Linked DNA regions of Homo sapiens. The protein of the gene in region 1 purifies or fractionates together with the protein of each later gene. This does not show direct contact. Each region holds a gene or a part of one and is shown on either strand. Other genes may lie near its edges.

What was found. Proteins that work in one complex are often made in the same cells at the same time.
Region 2: the proteins of PTPN22 (region 1) and PRKAR2A purify together in Homo sapiens (affinity purification with mass spectrometry, with the first as the bait; one large-scale study listed by BioGRID). This does not show direct contact.
Region 3: the proteins of PTPN22 (region 1) and CRYGD purify together in Homo sapiens (affinity purification with mass spectrometry; one large-scale study listed by BioGRID and IntAct). This does not show direct contact.
Region 4: the proteins of PTPN22 (region 1) and SDF4 purify together in Homo sapiens (affinity purification with mass spectrometry, with the first as the bait; one large-scale study listed by BioGRID). This does not show direct contact.

Annotation. Positions count from the first base shown.
Region 1 is NC_000001.11:113,832,807-113,838,027, forward strand, and holds part of PTPN22 (tyrosine-protein phosphatase non-receptor type 22), read right to left. Parts: coding exon 4,784-5,221; intron 2,188-4,783; coding exon 2,104-2,187; intron 1,634-2,103; coding exon 1,503-1,633; intron 333-1,502; coding exon 305-332; intron 1-304. UniProt on the Homo sapiens protein: Acts as a negative regulator of T-cell receptor (TCR) signaling by direct dephosphorylation of the Src family kinases LCK and FYN, ITAMs of the TCRz/CD3 complex, as well as ZAP70, VAV, VCP and other key signaling molecules.
Region 2 is NC_000003.12:48,764,375-48,768,734, reverse strand, and holds part of PRKAR2A (cAMP-dependent protein kinase type II-alpha regulatory subunit), read left to right. Parts: intron 1-3,385; coding exon 3,386-3,487; intron 3,488-3,656; coding exon 3,657-3,731; intron 3,732-4,360. UniProt on the Homo sapiens protein: Regulatory subunit of the cAMP-dependent protein kinases involved in cAMP signaling in cells. Type II regulatory chains mediate membrane association by binding to anchoring proteins, including the MAP2 kinase.
Region 3 is NC_000002.12:208,121,725-208,126,567, forward strand, and holds the start of CRYGD (gamma-crystallin D), read right to left. Parts: upstream 2,801-4,843; 5' UTR 2,750-2,800; coding exon 2,741-2,749; intron 2,631-2,740; coding exon 2,388-2,630; intron 222-2,387; coding exon 1-221. UniProt on the Homo sapiens protein: Crystallins are the dominant structural components of the vertebrate eye lens.
Region 4 is NC_000001.11:1,222,002-1,226,361, forward strand, and holds part of SDF4 (45 kDa calcium-binding protein isoform 2 precursor), read right to left. Parts: intron 1,968-4,360; coding exon 1,831-1,967; intron 1,357-1,830; coding exon 1,243-1,356; intron 1-1,242. UniProt on the Homo sapiens protein: May regulate calcium-dependent activities in the endoplasmic reticulum lumen or post-ER compartment. Isoform 5 may be involved in the exocytosis of zymogens by pancreatic acini.

The sequences.
Region 1 (5,221 bases):
CACACTGTTAACAGTGGGAAAATCTCTATAGTGGAAAAGCTGCAAAGTTTTAAAAGATTCTCTCTGAAATAGTTTTTATATATTATTTCAGAGAGGTTATATATTAAGGAGCAGAATTCTAAAATCCTGTCTTCACCTTGCTCTTTACAAAATTTCTAGTCTGGGAAAGCCAGAAATAAATCAATGAATACTGGAAGCTATTATGGGAACCAAGTAACTTCCTGAAGTGAATTACTCTAAACTTAACGAACCATTCTTCCAATCTTAGGGCTAAATGTCATCTAAAGCCAAGAGAAATTTTTACCTGATTTAGGACTTCGGAGTTTTACACTCTAAAAGAAAAAAAGAAAGGAAAAGTGAAAGAAGAATATGTATACAAATTATACAAACTCAAAGCAAAAAATGGCATTTTTGAACTTATATGTAATATAGCTGTAGAGATAATTATGAAATGTAGACCCTATTTTTCCTAATTTGTAAGTGTGCTGAATTATGAAATGGCATCTTTCACTCTTACACTGATTTTTATATCCCATGGCAATTAGTCCTAAATTGATCCCCTTCTGACTTATTTCTGTCCCACCTGAAACATTTCCCTGAAAATTTAATTAGAGGTAAGTTGCGGAAATTGAAGTTACTTCATAACATTGGAAGAGTGACTGTTCTTTCCTCTGGGAGTTGTTAAAGTAAATATATGTGCCTATTATTAATGACAATAATAATTACTAGTACATTAGAATTATAATTTAAAAGGCAGAGAATATTTGCCTATCAGCATTGCAATTGTAGGTACTTTAAAATGTTTAATTATTTTTCTGATCTCTCAAATTTTAAGAGAATTGGTTCACAGACTATACAGAAATGCATAACATTTTTAGATACACTTCTATTTTTCCTCCAGAAGCAGGACACACCTACTTTCAATAATTATTTTCTATTTAATCCACAAACCCCTCCCACCCCCATCTCTGACTTTACCATCAACCACACTATTCCAAAAGGTTTATCTTAAGTAATATGCACACCTGTCATTCTCTATAACATATTATCACAGCAAACATGATATAGCCTACCAAATGACTACAGTGAACAAGCTTCCTACTTAAGTATGAAACATTTATTTTTGCCTTAACTATCCTTCAAGAATCAGCTCAAATGTTTCCTCTTTCACTAAATCTTCCTTGATCACTTCCAACCTGGAGGCATCTCCTACACTTGAAATTCTTTATCTTTCATATGACATTGATCACATTTGCTTTGTTATAATAAATATAGGCAAAAATAAAGATTTGTACACATCCTATATCTCTACTACTAGACAAGAAGCTTCTTACAGGCAAGAATTGTGTCTTATACATCCTTTTTATCCCAACATCCTCTAGCACATTGTTCTATATTTAGTATGTGCTTAGGATTTATTGAATGATGGGTGTTAAAAATACAAGGAGTAGAACTGTAGTCTATTGAATCTAAATGAGTAGAGTCATTAAAAAATTATTGACCTTGCTTGGTCTAAGTATCACAGAGTCATCAAATTTCTTTGGTTCAGATGTTCCACCCCATTCCAGTGATGTTCCAATTTTTACCTTCACAGCTGAGGATAAGGATTTGGGAACATTTGGTGAGAATTCTCCTGGAAGAAAGTGAATATAGTTCGGTTCTTAAGAATAGTATTCTTTTAGACATCAAATGTTGCTCAGCAAATAATACATAAAACATTGAAAGGACCTGAGAAGTAATCTAGTTAATTCACACTTCATTTTATTTTTTGAGACAGGGTCTTGCTCTGTCACCCAGACTGGAGTGCAGTGGCACAATCATGGCTTACTGCAGCCCCCAACTCCTGGGCTCAAGTGATCCTCTCACCTCCACCATCCAAATAGTTGGGACTACACATGCATGCTGCTATTGCTCTGCTAAATTAAAAAAAAAAAATTAGAGATGAGGTCTCACTATGTTGCGCAGGCTAGTCTTGAACTCCTGGCCTCAATGAACTCCTCAAACTCAAGGCTCACACATCAGCTTCCCAAAGTGCTGGAATTAAAGGCATGAGCCACCATGCCCATCCCACACTTTATTTTATACTTACTGAACTGTACTCACCAGCTTCCTCAACCACAATAAATGATTCAGGTGTCCATACAGGAAGTGGAGGGGGGATTTCATCATCTATCCTTGGAGCAGTTGCTATCCAAAATGTCAAAAATATTGTAACAATTGTTAATTAGAACAATCCAAAGGAAATTCTTATATTCTAATATTAAATATAAATTTACCATAATTTATATTTAAATTCCGTTGAAGCAACATTATCAGTAAAGTTGACACTTGTTCATTCAAGGAAAAAGCAAAATAAATTCTCTTAAGGTACAAACCCAGGAGGTTTTTGCTTATTCTTTAACATTTATTGTTTTAAAAGCTCAAAAGTAGGGCTGGGCGCGGTGGCTCACGCCTGTAATCCCAGCACTTTCGGAGGCCGAGGCGGGCAGATCACAAGGTCAGGAGATCGAAACCATCCTGGCTAACGTGGTGAAACCGTGTCTCTACTAAAAACACAAAACATTAGCCGGGCGTGGTGGCGGGCCCCTGTAGTCCCAGCTACTCGGGAGGCTGAGGTGGGAGAATGGCGTGAACCCGGAAGGCAGAGCTTGCAGTGAGCCGAGATTGCACCACTGCATTCCAGCCTGGGTGGCAGCAGGACACTCCGTCTCAAAAAATAATAATAATAATAAATAAATAAAAGCTCAAAAACATTTTGATTGAGTCACGGTGTATCAGTTAACATAAAATATTATATTAATTTTGGAAGCTTTGAATTAACTTTTACATAACTCCTTTTGTTTTACATAGACTATATAATAAAACATTATAAAGTGCTTTGACGTGTAAAAGGTTCAGTTATACATTAGGTAAAATCATAAAGATTTCAGTATCTCTTCATTCTATACAAAATTCAAGAATATGGGTATTTTTCCATTTTACAAAACAACAGTATAGGATAGTCTTCTGTATTTCTATACAAACATTCAGTTTTTATTAAACATTTTAAATGGTATTACAAGAAACTGCCACCAGATGGCACATGACGATATTGTTACAATCCCTGAAAATAAGGGTATGTTTTTATTAATTAATTTTTTTTTGAGACGGAGTCTCGCTCTGTTTTTTAATGATGCAGATGCTCAGAGAAGTTTAAGGTATAAGAAAAGAAAATACATTTAAATGTTTAAAAATGTATAAAATAATCTAATCACAGAAGGAACATCTTAGATCCAGATAAGATATTTTTGCAACAAAGCTACAAATGATCTACACAACTATTTATTAAGAAACTCTACAATAAATAATGTTATAGAGCAAAAGTTTTCTCCACCTCCTATCTATGTAGAATGTGCTTTACAAATTATTTGATGATATACCTAAGGGAGTTAAACTTGTTCATTGCTTTCCCTCATCATCTTCCACATCAAATTATTGTCATCATCTCTAACAGGGTGCTCATTTCTACTTTCAAACTAATCAGTAAAACAGAACAATATGCATTATATGCAAAAATACAGAATTATAAAAGAGACAAAACATGAAAGTAAAGGTATACATATGATAAAATTTTTACACAAAATACTAAACATGTATTGTCATCTACGAGATTACTACAAAAGAGCAAGAAATCAGGTTCTCCCCTTCCAAATCCTGCAGGAAGATAATTCAATTTTTAGCAATATGTTCAACTCATTTTAGCCACATAATTGTGCAACAAAAAATCTGGGTGCTATTGATCAAATTTTTTTCTGCTCTTCCTTTGGAAGCTGCTTCTATATGTTAAGAGTAAATTCTGAAGCTAGGTGTGGTGGCTTGCACCTGTAATCCCAGCACTTTGGGAGGCCAAGGTGGGAGGATTGCTTGAGGCCAGATTTTCAAGACCAGGCTGGGCAACATAGCAAGACCCCATTTCTAAAAAAAAAAAAAATTAGCCAGGCATGGTGGCGTGTCCCTGTGGTCCCAGCTACTTGGGAGGCTGAGGTGGGAGGATTGGTTGAGCCCAGGACATCAAGGCTGCAATGAGCAATGTCCACACCACTGCACTCCAGCATGGGCAACATAGTGAGATTCTGTTTCAAAAAATATTTTTAAAAAACAGTATATTGTGAGCCTTTGATATACATTTCTAGAAATGAGGCGTGCCTTCTTTAGAAGCACTCCTGCTGGTACAGATCCTGTACCAGATCTTGATTGCCTCCATTGTTGCCTGTTTCATGGAATATTATGTTTGATGTTGCTATTTTCAACTTATTACAGCATTAAAACACTCCTGGAATGTATTTATTTGAGGAGTAGCAGGAAGAAGAAAGAGAAGGAAGCAGGCTAGGCGTGGTGGCTCATGCCTGTAATCTCAGCACTTTGGGAGGCCGAGGCAGGCAGATCACGAAGTCAAGAGATCAAGACCATCCTGGCCAACATGGTGAAACTCCATCTCTGCTAAAAATACAAAAATTAGCCGGGCGTGGTGGCGCGCGCCTGTAATCCCAGCTACTCAGGAGGCTGAGGCAGGAGAATTGCTTGAACTCTGGAGGCGGAAGTTGCATTGAGCCAAGATTGCACCACTGCACTCCAGCCTGGGTGACAGAGCGAGACTCCATCTCAAAAAAAAAAAAGAAAAAAAAGAGAAAAAAGAAAGAAAGAGAAGAAGCAGAGGAGAAGAGGGAAGAGGAGAAGAAACCAACTATTCTATAGAAACAAAATGAAATCTAAAATTCTATGCAAACTTTAAAAAATAACTTACCTAGTACAGCTGACTCCTGGTTCAATAGTGAGGAAATATTGGTTGGAGAATTCAGTGATAAAGAATCATGTGAATTGTAATAAGAGAAGAGGGATGTAGAGGATGTTGGCAACAGAGAAGAAGGAAAAACAGTTCCATCTTGCTTCTCAGGTAAATCAAGAGACATCTTAGAACTGGTACCACTTGGAGGCCATGATGAAAAATAAGGATTTTCCACTAAAGGTATGTAAGAATATACACCAAGAGCACTAGAGTCATGGTGCTTTACATTAGAGGCATTACGTATTTGGTGTTTAGAGTCATATGGCAGTGAATAATTCAGTTCTGCTGAAGAAACATGCATTACTTTTTGAGCCTGCATCTCTACAAAACAAGAATCATGTGGTTGAGATTCCAAATAAGAAAAGTTTTCCTTGCTGTCCACCTCCTTGGTTTCTC
Region 2 (4,360 bases), on another chromosome or scaffold:
CCCTCTGTGTATTTTTTAATATTTATTTATTTATTTATTTTGAGACGGAGTCTCTGTTGCCCAGGCTGGAGTATAGTGGTGTGATCTCGGCTCACTGCATCCTCTGCCTCCAGGGTTCAAGTAATTCTCATGCCTCAGCCTCCCAAGTAGCTGGGACTATAGGTGTACACCACCATGCCCAGCTAATTTTTGTATTTGTAGTAGACACGAGATTTCACCATGTTGGCCAGGCTGGTCTCGAACTCCTGACCTCAAGTGATCCACCCACTTTGGCCTCCCAAAATGCTGGGATTATAGGTGTGAGCCACTGTGCCAGGCCTTTTATTTTATCTATCTATGTATCTATGTATGTGTGTGTGTGTGTCTGTCTGTCTGTCTCTCTGTCTGTCTATATCTATCTATCTATCTATCTATCTATCTATCTATCTATCTATCTATCTTTTGAGACGGTCTCACTCTGTTGGCCAGGCTGGAGTGCAGTGGTGCTCTCACACCTCACTGCAACTTCGCCTCCCAGGGCTCAAGCAATCCTCCCACCTCTGCCTCCCCAGTAACTGGGACCACAAGTGCACGCCACCACGCCTGGCTAATTTTTGTATTTTTTGTACAGATGGGTTTCGCCATGTTGCCCAGGCTGTTCTCAAACTTCTGGGCTCAAACAATCCACCCACCTCCCCACCTCAGCCTCCCAAAGTGCTGGGAATACAGTCGTGAGCCACTGTTCCCAGCCTGTATGGGTTTTTTTTAAATAAATAAATAAAATATTGGGGTTTTCTGTTTTTGTGGGGTTTTTTTGTTTGTTTTTTTTTTTGAGATGGAGTCTCGCTCTGTCTCCCAGGCTAGAGTGCAGTGGTGTGATCTTGGCTCACTGCAACCTCCACCTCCCAGGTTCAAGCGATTCTCCTGTCTCAGCCTCCCTAGTAGCTGGGACTGCAGGCGCGTGCCGCCATGCCCAGCTAATTTTTTGTATTTTTAGTAGAGACGGGGTTTCATTGTGTTAGCCAGGATGGTCTCGATCTCCTGACCTTGTGATCCACCCGCCTCAGCCTCCCAAAGTGCTGGGATTATAGGTGTGAGCCACTGCGTCCAGCCTGTTTTTGTGTTTTAAATAGAGTTGAGGTCTCATTGTGTTGCCCAGGCTGGTCTTGAATTCCTAGCCTCAAGCGATCCTCCTGCCTTGGCCTCCCAAAGTGCAGGGATTACAGGCATGAACCACCACACACAGCCTAAAATATTGTTTTGTTTTTGTTTTTTTCGAGGCAGGGTCTCGCTCTGTTACCCAGGCTGGAGTGCAGTGGCATGATCTCGGCTCACTGCAACCTCTGCCTCCCAGGTTCAAGTGATTCTCCTGTCTCAGCGTCCCAAGAAGCTGGGATTACAGGCGCCCACCACCATGCCTGGCTAATTTTTGTATTTTTAGTAGAGATGTGGTTTCACCATATTGGCCAGGCTGGTCTTGAACTCCTGACCTCAAGCGATCCGTCTGCCTCGGCCTCCCAAAGTTCTGGGATTACAGGCGTGAGCCACTGCGCCCAGCCCATTATTATACTTTCTGACAAAATGTATATATGTATAGTCCTGACAGCCTGAGGTGGAAGAAAGGTAGTTAACTTAGATACAAATAACTGCTTGCCCATTTAGGAATCTAAGACTAAGCAATTAACATTCTCACATGTATCTCCCTGCACATGTGTACACATATCTGAGAAGTGCCTGGTTTGGTTAACTGTCTTCTGATCAGAATCCATTACTTACTAAGCCAGGCACAGTGTTGTGTACCTGTAGTCCCAGCTACTTGGGAGGCTGAGGTGGGGAGATCACTTGACCCCAGGAGTTCAAAGCCAGCCTGGACAACATTGGGGGACCCTATCTCAAAATAAAACAGAAGGAATCCATGACTTGCTAGAGTCAAGGTATCTTTCATATGCCTGCCTTCCATCTTGCGTATTCCTCCCGTGTCTCTCCATTAACTTAAATCCTACCTCTCTTTCAGGTCCTAGACATTTTTGCTGCAAAATAATCTTTGATCACTCCTGCCTACTGTGATCTCCCCTTCTTACCTTGAAATTTATGTGGCACTTGTCTTCTGTAGTTTCATCAAGCACATTTCATATGCTCATATGCTGTCTTGAACTGTAGACTTTTTATTTTTATTTTATTTTTTTTTGAGACACAGTTTCAACTTATGTCACCCAGGCTGGAGTGCAGTGGCGCAATCTCAGCTCACTGCAACCTTAGCCTCCTGAGCTCAAGTGATTCTCCAGCCTCAGCCTCCCAACTAGCTGGGACTAGACAAACGCCACCATGCCCAGCTAATTTTTGTATTTTCTGTAGAGATGGGGTTTCACCATGTTGCACAGCCTGGTCTTGAACTCCTGAGCTCAAGTGATCTGTCTGACTCAGCCTCCCAGAATGCTGGGATTACAGGTGTGAGCCACTGCACCTGTCCTTGAAATGTAGACTTTTTATTCCTATGTATTTTGTTGTTGTTGTTGTTGTTGTTGATATTGTTGTTTTTGGGACATAGTGTCACTCTGCTGCCCAGGCTGGAATGCAGTGGTACAATCACAACTCACTGCAGCTTTGACCTCTCAGGCTCTGGTGAGCCTTTCACCTCAGCCACCCAAGTACAGACAAGTGCCACCATGCCCAGCTAACTTTTTTTGTGTATTTTTTCGTAGAGAGCGTGTTTCACCATGTTGCCTAGGCTGGTCTCATACTCCTGGGCTCAAGCAATTTGCCCACCTTAGCCTCCCAAAATGCTAGGAGTACAGGCAGTGAGCCACTGCATTCAGCCAACCTTCATATTTTGATATTTTATATTATCTCCCCATTAAGATTGTAAACTTTTTTAGGGTAAGAACAATCTAATTGTTCTTTTTTTAGGCAAGAACAATCTAATTGTTTTGGATTTTTTAAGTTTTTTTAAATCCTGGATTCTAAGGATTAAATGATTGTTTTATTCTCTCTTTTGGTGAGGTGTCTCTTTTTTTTTTTTTTTTTTTTTTTTGAAATGAGGGTCTCACTCTGTCACCCAGGCTGGAGTGCAGTGACATGATCTCGGCTCACTAGAGGTGTCTTTTTTGATATTGAACAGTGACAGTGAGCTCATAAATGTTTAGGTGTTTTCTGTTTTGGGTTCTATTTATGACCCATAGGTGGCACCTATTGAGTGCTAGATAGCAAGCAACAGCATGTGGGCATCTGGCTGGCTCAGGCTATAGGTCCTTTACTTCCAGTGATGACTCAAGATTGAAGTATCATTAAACACTTAATTAACACAGTAACTTACATATTCCTCTAATATTTGCTTTGGCCAGTTAATTAAACCATAGATGTTCCTGTATATAGGCATTTACTAGAATTTTCATATTCTTTCTTGTAGGACCGGGTGACTTTTAGAAGAATCATAGTGAAAAATAATGCAAAGAAGAGGAAGATGTTTGAATCATTTATTGAGTCTGTGCCCCTCCTTAAATCACTAGAGGTAAAGTGGCTTGAATAAGAATCTGTTCATGGGGATCAGGAAAAGCTTTTAAAACTATTCTGTTGTTAGGTTTTCAAATCATACTATTCTAATCCTATTTCTGTGCTGCATAGCTATTGTGACTTTCAATTAAGGTCTTTTCCTTTTATTTGTGAATTTGTTGTTTCAGGTGTCAGAACGAATGAAGATTGTGGATGTAATAGGAGAGAAGATCTATAAGGATGGAGAACGCATAATCACTCAGGTGAGTGAGGGCTTTACGCAGCTCCTTTCCTGGAAGTCACCCCTGAAGAACTAGTACATCATTTATCTCAAAAACTTCTTGCCGGACGCAGTGGCTCACGCCTGTAATCCCAACACTTCGGGAGGCTGAGGCAGGTGGATCACTTGAGGCCAGGAGTTCAAGACCAGCCTGGCCAACATGGTAAAACTCCATCTCTACTAAAAATACAAAAATTAGCTGGGTGTGGTGGCCCATGCCTGTAATCCCAGCTACTTGGGAGGCTGAGGCGGGAGAATTGCTGGAACCCAGGAGGCAAAGGTTTCAGTGAGTCGAGATTGCGCCACTGCCTCCAGCCTGGGCAACAGAGCAAGACTCCATTTCAAAAAAAAACCAAAAAACCTTCTATGTTCTCCCACTGTTGGGAGCTCTTATTACCAGGTAATAGATCATACTTCAGAGGACTATTATGTAGTCCTCTGAAGCTTATTGACGTCCGTCTTACTGACACGTGCAGATCTCTTGCTTCCTCTCACCTTTCCTTGGCTTCTAGTGTTTGTTCTTTTGATGTCATTTTCTTTTGACCTTAAGTAAGTTTCATCCATTGCTATTAGAACCTGGGGAAGGTTAAAGAGTTCTGTCCTCTAACTTTC
Region 3 (4,843 bases), on another chromosome or scaffold:
CCCCAGTCCTGGTAGCGCCTATAGTCCCCTGGCATCAGCAGGTACTGCCGTCCTCGGTAGTTGGACAGCTCGTAGAGGACCCAGGAGCCCTCCAGCACGTTGAGGGAGTGGATTTCATTGAAGCGGAAGCGGTCCTGAAGACAGGAGCAGTCCTCAGTGAACTCTATCATCTGGCCTCTGTAGTCCTCTCTCTCATAGAGTCTGATCCTGTGAGAGCCAGACTGGCGGACCCAGAAATAAAAAGAGAAGAAAAGCAAGTGTGAAATGATTCCAATGCATTGTTAGGCAGTCCAGCTTGGTGAGGACCCGCTCAAGCCATTTTGAAATACATGGTAAAATTTAATTAATTCTGAATATTTATAAACTCCTCATTACCGAGCACAGAGATTCAGTACCTTTTCAAGATTATGAAGTGTGGTGAAGAAATTGAGAAGGAAATCTCACTCTTTAATATATTCAGCTATTTCTTAGGATGAGCTGCCTCCTAGGCTCAGTATCCTGTACCACATGCAAATCCAAACCTGTAACAGCTTATTACTATTTTATACCATTTTGAAGAAATGTTTTAATATTAAAATAAACATTAAATTATAAAGAAATATATTTAAATAATGTATAATTTTAATATACATATGATATCTAATACATATTTAATTATATACTATATTTAAAATATATTATAAAATGTATAAAATTATATTTTATTTAAAGTTAATCATATTTTATTTTAATAATTATATTCAAATTATATTTTATAAGTATAAATTAAAATTATATTTATTTTACAAATTATATTTTATTTTAAAATAACTTTACTAAAATATAAATAAAATATATTTAAAATACAGAAATATAAGGGGTGGGGCAGTGGCTCATGCCTGTAGTCCCAGCACCCTGGGAAGCCGAGGCAGGTGGATCACTTGAGGTCAGGAGTTCAAGACCAGCCTGACGAATATGGCGAAACCTTGTCTATACTAAAAATACAAAAATTAGCCAGGTGTGGTGGCGGGTGCCTGTAATCCCAGCTACTTGGGAAGAAAATTGCTAGGGCCCAGGAAGCAGAGGTTGCAGTGTGCCGAGATCATGCCACTGCACTCCAGCGTGGGGAACAGAGCAAGACTTCGTCAAAAAAAATAATAATAATAAATAATAAAATAAAATAAAATAAAAATAAAAATACAAAAATTAGCTGGGTGTGGTGGCGTGCTCCTGTAACTCCAGCTACTCAGGAGACTGAGAGACGAGAATCATTTGAATCCAGGAGGCGGAGGTTGCAGTGAGCCGAGATTGCACCACTGCACTCCAGCCTGGGCGTCAGAGTGAGACTCTGTTTCAAAAAACAAAAACAAAACAACAACAACAAAAATATATATATACACACATATAATGTAAATGAAATATATTAAAAATATATTAAAATATATTTAAAATATGTTAAATATATTTAAAATATAATATAATTTATGTAGTTATATAAATATATTAAATACATATTTATTAAATAAATATATTATTAAATACATTATATTCATTAAATATATTTAATGTAAATATATTTAAAATATAAAAATATGTATTTTAAATATAAGTATTTAAAATATATTAAATATATCATTTAATATATTGAATTAAATGATAATGCATCATTTAAATCAATGACATAAATAAAATATGTTAAATATATAAGCCTTCTATTCAAAATATAAGTGTTTTAAATATATTAAAATATAAATATTTAAAATATATTAAAATATAAAATGTTAAATATCTTCATATATTAAAGAACAATTAATTCTAAGTCAATAACTTGTGAATGCAATGAAGAAAAATGGAGGAAGAAACATCAGTAAGTCCAAGGACGAATTTTGCATAAACTTTAGTGTTCTAACACACATATGGGATAAAAGGGACACATGTGTAAAATATGTGTGTTGCTCTCCTTTGAAGGAAAGTCTTACTTATATAGGTTGGGAAAACCCAAAATATGCAAGAGAGGAGCAAAAACGGGAAAAAGTCTCAAAAGAAATTACCCTGTTTGCTCAGTAACTGCTGTACGCTCTAGCATTTATTCTTCTATTGGGTATTAGTGGTTTTTCTACAACTCCATTCTAAATGATTCCAGAATAGGACTTAAGTCTTATACAACCCCTAGGGCAGGAGACACATTCCTACTCAATACATATTTGTGGATTAATTGTGATTAACTGGTGTCTGGGTAATACTTTGCTTATGTGGGGAGCAAACTCTATTGACTTAATCCACTATAGTTCATCTTTTGTCCACTCTCAGTTATTGTGACTGATCACTACTTCTAATGTTTAACTTTTGCTTGAAACCATCCAGTGAGTGTCCTGAGGGCCTGGGTCCTGACTTGAGGATGTACTCACGTGGGGGATGAGGCGGCAGGAGCGGACCGAGTCGCTGAGGCCCATCCACTGCTGGTGGTCGGCATAGTCGCCGCGGCGCAGGAAGTACTGGAGGCCCGAGTAGTTGGGCTGCTCATAGAGCATCCAGCAGCCGCTGTCCACGCGCGCCGAGTTGCAGCGGCTCAAGTAGGGCTGCAGGTTGGGGTGGTCGCTGCTGCATTCATAGTGGCGGCCCTGGAAGCCCCGGTCCTCGTAGAGGGTGATCTGCAAGGCAAGGCGGGACAAGGCGAGGTCTCACAGGCCTGCTCCTGCCCCAGTCTCTGGCCCCCGCGATGGAGGAAGCTCCGGGGTCCCGGGGCGCAGGCTGGGCTCACCTTCCCCATGGCTGGCTGGGCGCACGGCGGTGCTGAGCTGGTGGGGCGGCGGCGCTGAGCGGGTGGGGCTGCGGCGCGGCGGGCTATATAGCAGGAGGGCTGCTGCGTTGGCAAGAACCGCACAAAAGGGGCCCCCGGAGGGGAGCAAGGGCATTTTCGTGTTCTCTTTTTTTCTCTTTGCTGTGCTAGACCACGGGGCTTGTTGTGGGTTTTGGTCGCATTCTCTCTGGAGTATTCGGATTGCTATCACTGGCTGATGCTATTGAGAATGTTTGTAAAACGGCAATTTGGGACATTGTCTATTTATAATGGAAGTGGAGCTTCAGCTATTTCACATATAGTTCACGCTTTTATTCGTATAGATTGGGGAAAAACAAAAAAAATTTAAGTCGGGGAGCAAAAAAAGCAACGACTCTTAATAAGGCAAATATAAATTAATCTGTCAGAACTACAGTATTACTTACGTGCCACAATATTGAATACTGATTGTTAATAGGAAGGAAATGGGCTTAACTGAATGTTGAAAATTTCAAGTTAGTCCTTTAAGAGAACGTCATCATGAAAGGGTGTAAGAAATTGGAACATTTTATTAAGAGAGTTCACAGAATTTCGAACTTTTATTATGGTAAAACACACAGCAAACGTGAATCTTCAATATTGGGTCTGATTTTGTTGCAATTATGCCTGGAAGTAGCTGAGAATTAGATGTTTTTCTCTTAGCTAAAGGTGGTGCCGTGATTCAAAAGAGAGAATAGTTCTAAGATGCTTAATCTCAGAAAGAACTAAAAAGGGAAATATCTAAGTTTGAGGAAATTAGAAAAAGTAATATGTTTGAAACACAAAAACATGATCTCTTAGCTTGTTATAAAATAAAACCAAATTCCTAAGAAACTTATTTCTGGTAGGATCTAGAATACACCTTTGCCCTCTGAACGAGCGAGAGTACACAAGGCCTTTGACTCAGACGAAATTAATTGCATGAACACAAAGGGGAGCTATGGCTGGAATGATGCAGGGAGAGGAAGGAATAAAAATCTAGAAGTTGGACTCGAGGAAGACTTCAGAAAGTACTTATTGGCCTGGAAGAGAGCAGTTTGATGGACTGGGAAGAGTACTGGAGTGGAATATGACCTATGTGTCCAGCTTCTTTCATGTTCAAAGAATTGCTTACAGCCCTGTGTCAACCCATGGAAGTACTTTGTCTTGTCTTTGAGTCATAAATCTTTGTAAGTGGTATTTATGAATTAAACACCAACTATGTGCAATACAAATTATTTTAATTCTTATTTTCTGGCTGCTTTTTTTTTTTTGTATTCTTTCTATATAGAGCTCTACGGTGGTAGGGAAATACCTTTTTCTTTTGTTTTGTTTTGATTGTTTTCTTCATCCCCATTGCTACATATAGCAGGCGTATGGTAGGTGCTCAAAAATTGGTAAGGATCCTAACTCAAGGAAGTTAAGAGTCTCTAGTGGCTAATAATTGGAGGCTATTGAAATGGAAAATAAACTTGTGGCTGGGTGTGGTGGCTCACACCTGTAATCCCAGCACTTTCGGAGGCCAAGGTGGGAGGGTCACTTGAGCCCAGGAGTTCGAGACCAGCCCTGGCAACATAGTGAGACCCCTTCTCTACAAAAAAGTGAAAAAATTAGTCAGGCATGGTGGTGCGCGCCTGTAGCCCCAGCTACTTAGGAGGCTGAGATGGGAGGATCGCTTGAGCCTGTGAGGTCGAGGCTGCAGTGAGCTGGGTTTGTGCCACTGCACTCCATCCTGGACAACAGAGTGTGACCATGTCTCAAAAAATAAATAAATAAAATAAAATAAACTTGCACTATGAGCCGGTAGTCTCACTTCTAGGTCGCTATCTTTTTAAAATTATGGCATGTCAGGATTAGCGTATATGTACAATGTTATTCTTTGCAGCATTGTTGGTAAAAGCAACATTGGAAAAGCCCAGTCACTTAAGTGGACAAATGGTGAAATGGTCTAAGGGACCTCCAAACAATGGGATGCAATTCAACCATCAAACAGAATAAGATACTGACCTAGATATATGTCCATATTATAATACATTTTAAAAGCAAGTTGCAGACTAATATGTATAG
Region 4 (4,360 bases), about 110 Mb from region 1:
GTTACTGATAAGTTAAGCAGGCACAAAAAATAAAGGTGTAAGATACACCCAGCCTGCCAGGAGCAGCCCCGTATCACGTGACCAGTCCCGTGGGCGACACGGGCGCCCTGCAGGGCAGCAGAGAACCCACCCCAGGATGCCGGGCAGCGACGGAGCAGGCGACTCTGCACGTTCTCCTCAAAGCCCCAAACCAGACCACGGGCATGACCGGGAAGGGCACACGGAGCCCCAGGGTGGCAGCAACGCCACGGTACCCGCTCAGCTGTGCCTCACAACTGGGCCAGCAGGGGCTTCTGCCTGGACGGCTCTCCCAGACCTGGCCCCGTGCAGGGTGGCCCGGCTCTCCCCTCACCTGGCCTTAGCCCGGGTGCCGGGCCCCACCCGGCCCCACCCTCTTCACGCAGAGGCACCAGCTTGGACCCGCCCAGGGCTGAGGCTGCCCTGCTGGCCAACGGCCACACCCCAGACCCAAGGAAGAGCCTCTCCCTGGGACCTGACCGCTCTCTGGTGACCACCTGACGGCCACACAGATGTCTCCAGCAGACCCAGGCCTCAGGGCCAGGCCCTCAGGCACAGGCTGTGCCCTCTCCCCAGGAAACTCTGCCTCACGTGGCCTTCAGAGTACGGGGCAGGCCCCAACCCAGACTCACAGCCTCAGATTCTCTGCAGGACCTAACTGAGTAACGGCCGTGAAGGTGCCGTGACCAGCAGAGCTGAAAGCTGCCCAGGCACAGCTCACACGCTCCCCACCGGACTCCTGGGCGGCGCCTAGGTCAGCAACGGCTTCACCCACTTCCCTCCTGACAGCCACCACCAACCAGGTTGGGCCATGCTGTTAAGACGAACACGTGTGCACACAGCGGGTGTGAGGGCGCACTCACCTGCATGTACTCACGAGCCTACATGAACAGCTACCTGGATGTACTCACAAGCACACGCACAGCGCACTCGTACACACGACACGCACACACGTACAAGCACATGCACAGTGCACTCGTACACACGACACGCATACACATGTACTCACGAGCACACACACAGCACACGTACACACAACATGCACACACGTACTCACGAGCACGCGCACAGCACACTCGTACACACGGCACGCACACACGTACTCACGAGCACACGCACGGCACACTCATACACGACACACACGGCACACTCATGTACACACAACACACGCGCGCACACACAGGATGCCTGAGACCGGTGGCGGGAGCCTGGCTGAGCACTCACTTTCCTCATCCACTTTGAGTTCCTCGTTGAGCCTGATGGCGTCGGCAACCTCCTTCTCGCTATGGCCTTTACTCGCCAAAAACTTCACCTTATACTCGTCCCAAGACACGTGACCTGGAAGAGCAGATCACACCTGTCAGGGCCTCTGATACTGAGCTGAACTTCCTTCTCAACTGAGATGGGGTCTTGCTCTGCTGCCCAGGCTGGAAGCGGCAGGATGCCAGCGTCTGGAGCCCCAGGGCCCCGGCCAGCACCCCACACCCGTTTCCTCACCTGTGAGGCCAGCCGGCAACGTCTGTGCCTCGGGGCCACCAAGAGGCATAGACACCACCAGATGAAGGCCCCGAAGACATAAGAGGCGCCCTCCATGGGCCACGCCCAGTGCTTGGCACACACACCTCTGTCACCAGGATTCTGGCATCATGAACCCAGCTTCCGTGCACCCCACCACACCTCGGGGTCTCCGGCTGACACTTCCCCACCGCCCGTCCCTCAGACAGGGCCTGTCTGCCCTCCAGGCACCAGGCAAGGCCCATGGCCCTGCCCGCCCCGCCCACCGCCCCACCCACCCCGGCCCAGCCACAGTACCGTCCCCGTCAGGGTCCACGGCGCGGAAGTGTGTCTTGCTCTCCTCCATGGCCTCCTGGAAGTGCTCGGCCGTCTTCTCCATGATCCAGCGCTGCATCTCCTTGGCACTGATCTTCCGGTCAGTGTTCACATCCACCCTGCAAGACAGCAAATGGGCAGGTGGCCGTCAGACTGGGCCCCCAGGACCCCGAACAGCCAGACGGATGCCGCCGGCCCAGGACTCCATGGCTGCGTGAACCTGCCACCAACAGCGACAGGCTCCACCAGGCAACGCGAAAAGCGTCCGGGACGTGGGGCTTGTGGGGTGCCGGGCCACGCCAGAGACACTGGGGAAGGTGGATGCCACGGTCCCCTCCCCGGGGAAACACATGGACCCTCCCCCTCTGTCACACAGAATCACCACCAGACCCCACTCTCCAACCACAGCTTCCAAAAGTCACACTCTTCACGTTTTATTTTATTTTTTGAGATGGAGTCTCACTCTGTCACCCAGGCTGGAGTGTGGTGGCGCAATCTTTGCTCACTGCAACCTCCGCCTCCCGGGTTCAAGCGATTCTACTGCCTCAGCCTCCCGAGTAGCTGGGATTACAGGGGTGCACCACCACGCCTGGCTAATTTTTGTATTTTTAACAGAAATACGGTTTCACCATGTTGGGCAGGCTAGTCTCAAACTCCTGACCTCAAATGATCCACCCACCTCAGCCTCCCAACGTGCTAGGATTACAGGTGTGGCCACTGGGCCCGGCCCATGTTTTATTTTCGATGCTTCAGGTATGGCTACACAAAAACCTTCATATAGGCAGGACGCAGTGGCCACACCTATAATCCCAGCCCTTTGGGAGGCTAAGACAGGTGGATCACTTAAGCCCAGAAGTTCAAGACCAGCTTGGGCAACATAGGGAGACCCCACCTCTACAAAAACAATTACGAAAATTCGCCAGGCGCGGTGGCGTGCACCTGTGGTTTCAGCTACTCAAGAGGCTGAGGTGGGAGGCCTCCCGAACCTGGAATGCGAAGGTTGCAGTGAACTGTGATCACACCACTGCACTCCAGCCTGGGCGGCATACCGAGACCCTGACTCAAAACAAGACAAAACAAAATCCTTCATATAAATTTAAGTTGTGAGATTTAGGAAGAAGACCGTGTGGGGACTTAACATTGTGTGCAAGGATGGAAGAGACCACAGACTTGGGGGATAGGGACACAGACTGGGGACACGGGGCCAGCGCAGGCCAGGTCAGGAGGCCACAGGCCCCAGGACAGGTCACTCCCGTCCCAGCTTCAGAGCTCGGCTTCACCATTATGTCTTTGTGGAAGCCACAGGCTCCTACCCCTGCTGCAGCCGCCCGTGTCCTGAGCTCACCTGTTGGAAACTTAACCCCCAGGGCAACAGCACTGGGAGGCAGGGCTTCCAGAGGTGCGAGGTCTTGAGACCCCGGCTGGTGCGTTTGCCGGAGGCATCCCCGAGAGTAGGGTGCCCTGGCCCCTTGCCTCTATGCTCCGCTCAGGGGCAGCCGCGGCCACGTTATGAGGTGGCAAGCAGGCCCTCGTCAGGCAGGTGTGGCCTCTGGGACCTGGGCCAGGCAAGCTTCGAGGGTGCACACACCGCAGGCACGGCTCAGAAGCACTGGGCAGAGATCCTCATGGAAGAAGGCCAGGCTGCCGCTCACACGCGCCCCTCCCTCAGCAGCCGCAGCAGCCCAGAGGTGGACGGGCCTGGGAGGCACCCTCAGCTCCACAGTCCCCAAAACACACCGGCTGGGGACGGGGCCACCCGGGTGGCCATGTGGCAGGTGGGGCACCTGGTGGGTCTCACGTGGACACGTGCATCCTCGAATGCTCCGGTCACGCTCCACACGCGCCACAGACACAGGCCACACGCTCCACACGCCACAGACACGGGCCACACACTCCACATGCCACAGACACGGGCCACACACTCCACACGCTCTACACACTCCACAGACACAGACACACACGAGGCAGAGCAAAAAGCAAAAAGGTGGAAAGAAACCACATGGCGCAGGATTCCAGTCAAGATGTCGGCAAGGAGTCACTCATCCAAACTCAGGTGCCTGAAGACACGGCTGCAGGGCGGTGCACGTACATGGAGCTGGCACGCACACACGCAAGTGCACAGGCCGGTACCCACGTGTACACAGCACACACACGTGAACAGGGCTGGCAGAACACAGATGTGACTGGGCTGGTGCACACACGCATGTTATCAAGTTCTGGCTCCTGAGAGAACAAGGGCAAGACGCCCAGTGCCCAGACCCTGGCTTCCAGCTCCAGCCACGGGAGACAGGGCTTCCTGGAAAGGCGGCAGCTATTGCACTGGGGCAGGTGGCACGGAGGCGAGCCCAGAGCATCTCACCGTGCCAGGAAGCGGGAAGGAAAGCCTGGAGCATCTCGTGGTGCAGGGAAGCGGGAAGGAAGTGAAGCTCAAAAGCCCCTAGGACAGGGCACCTCCCCTCTGGATGCTCTTTCCAGAAACCCTCAACCCTGTACGGTCAGGAGGAAACATGGC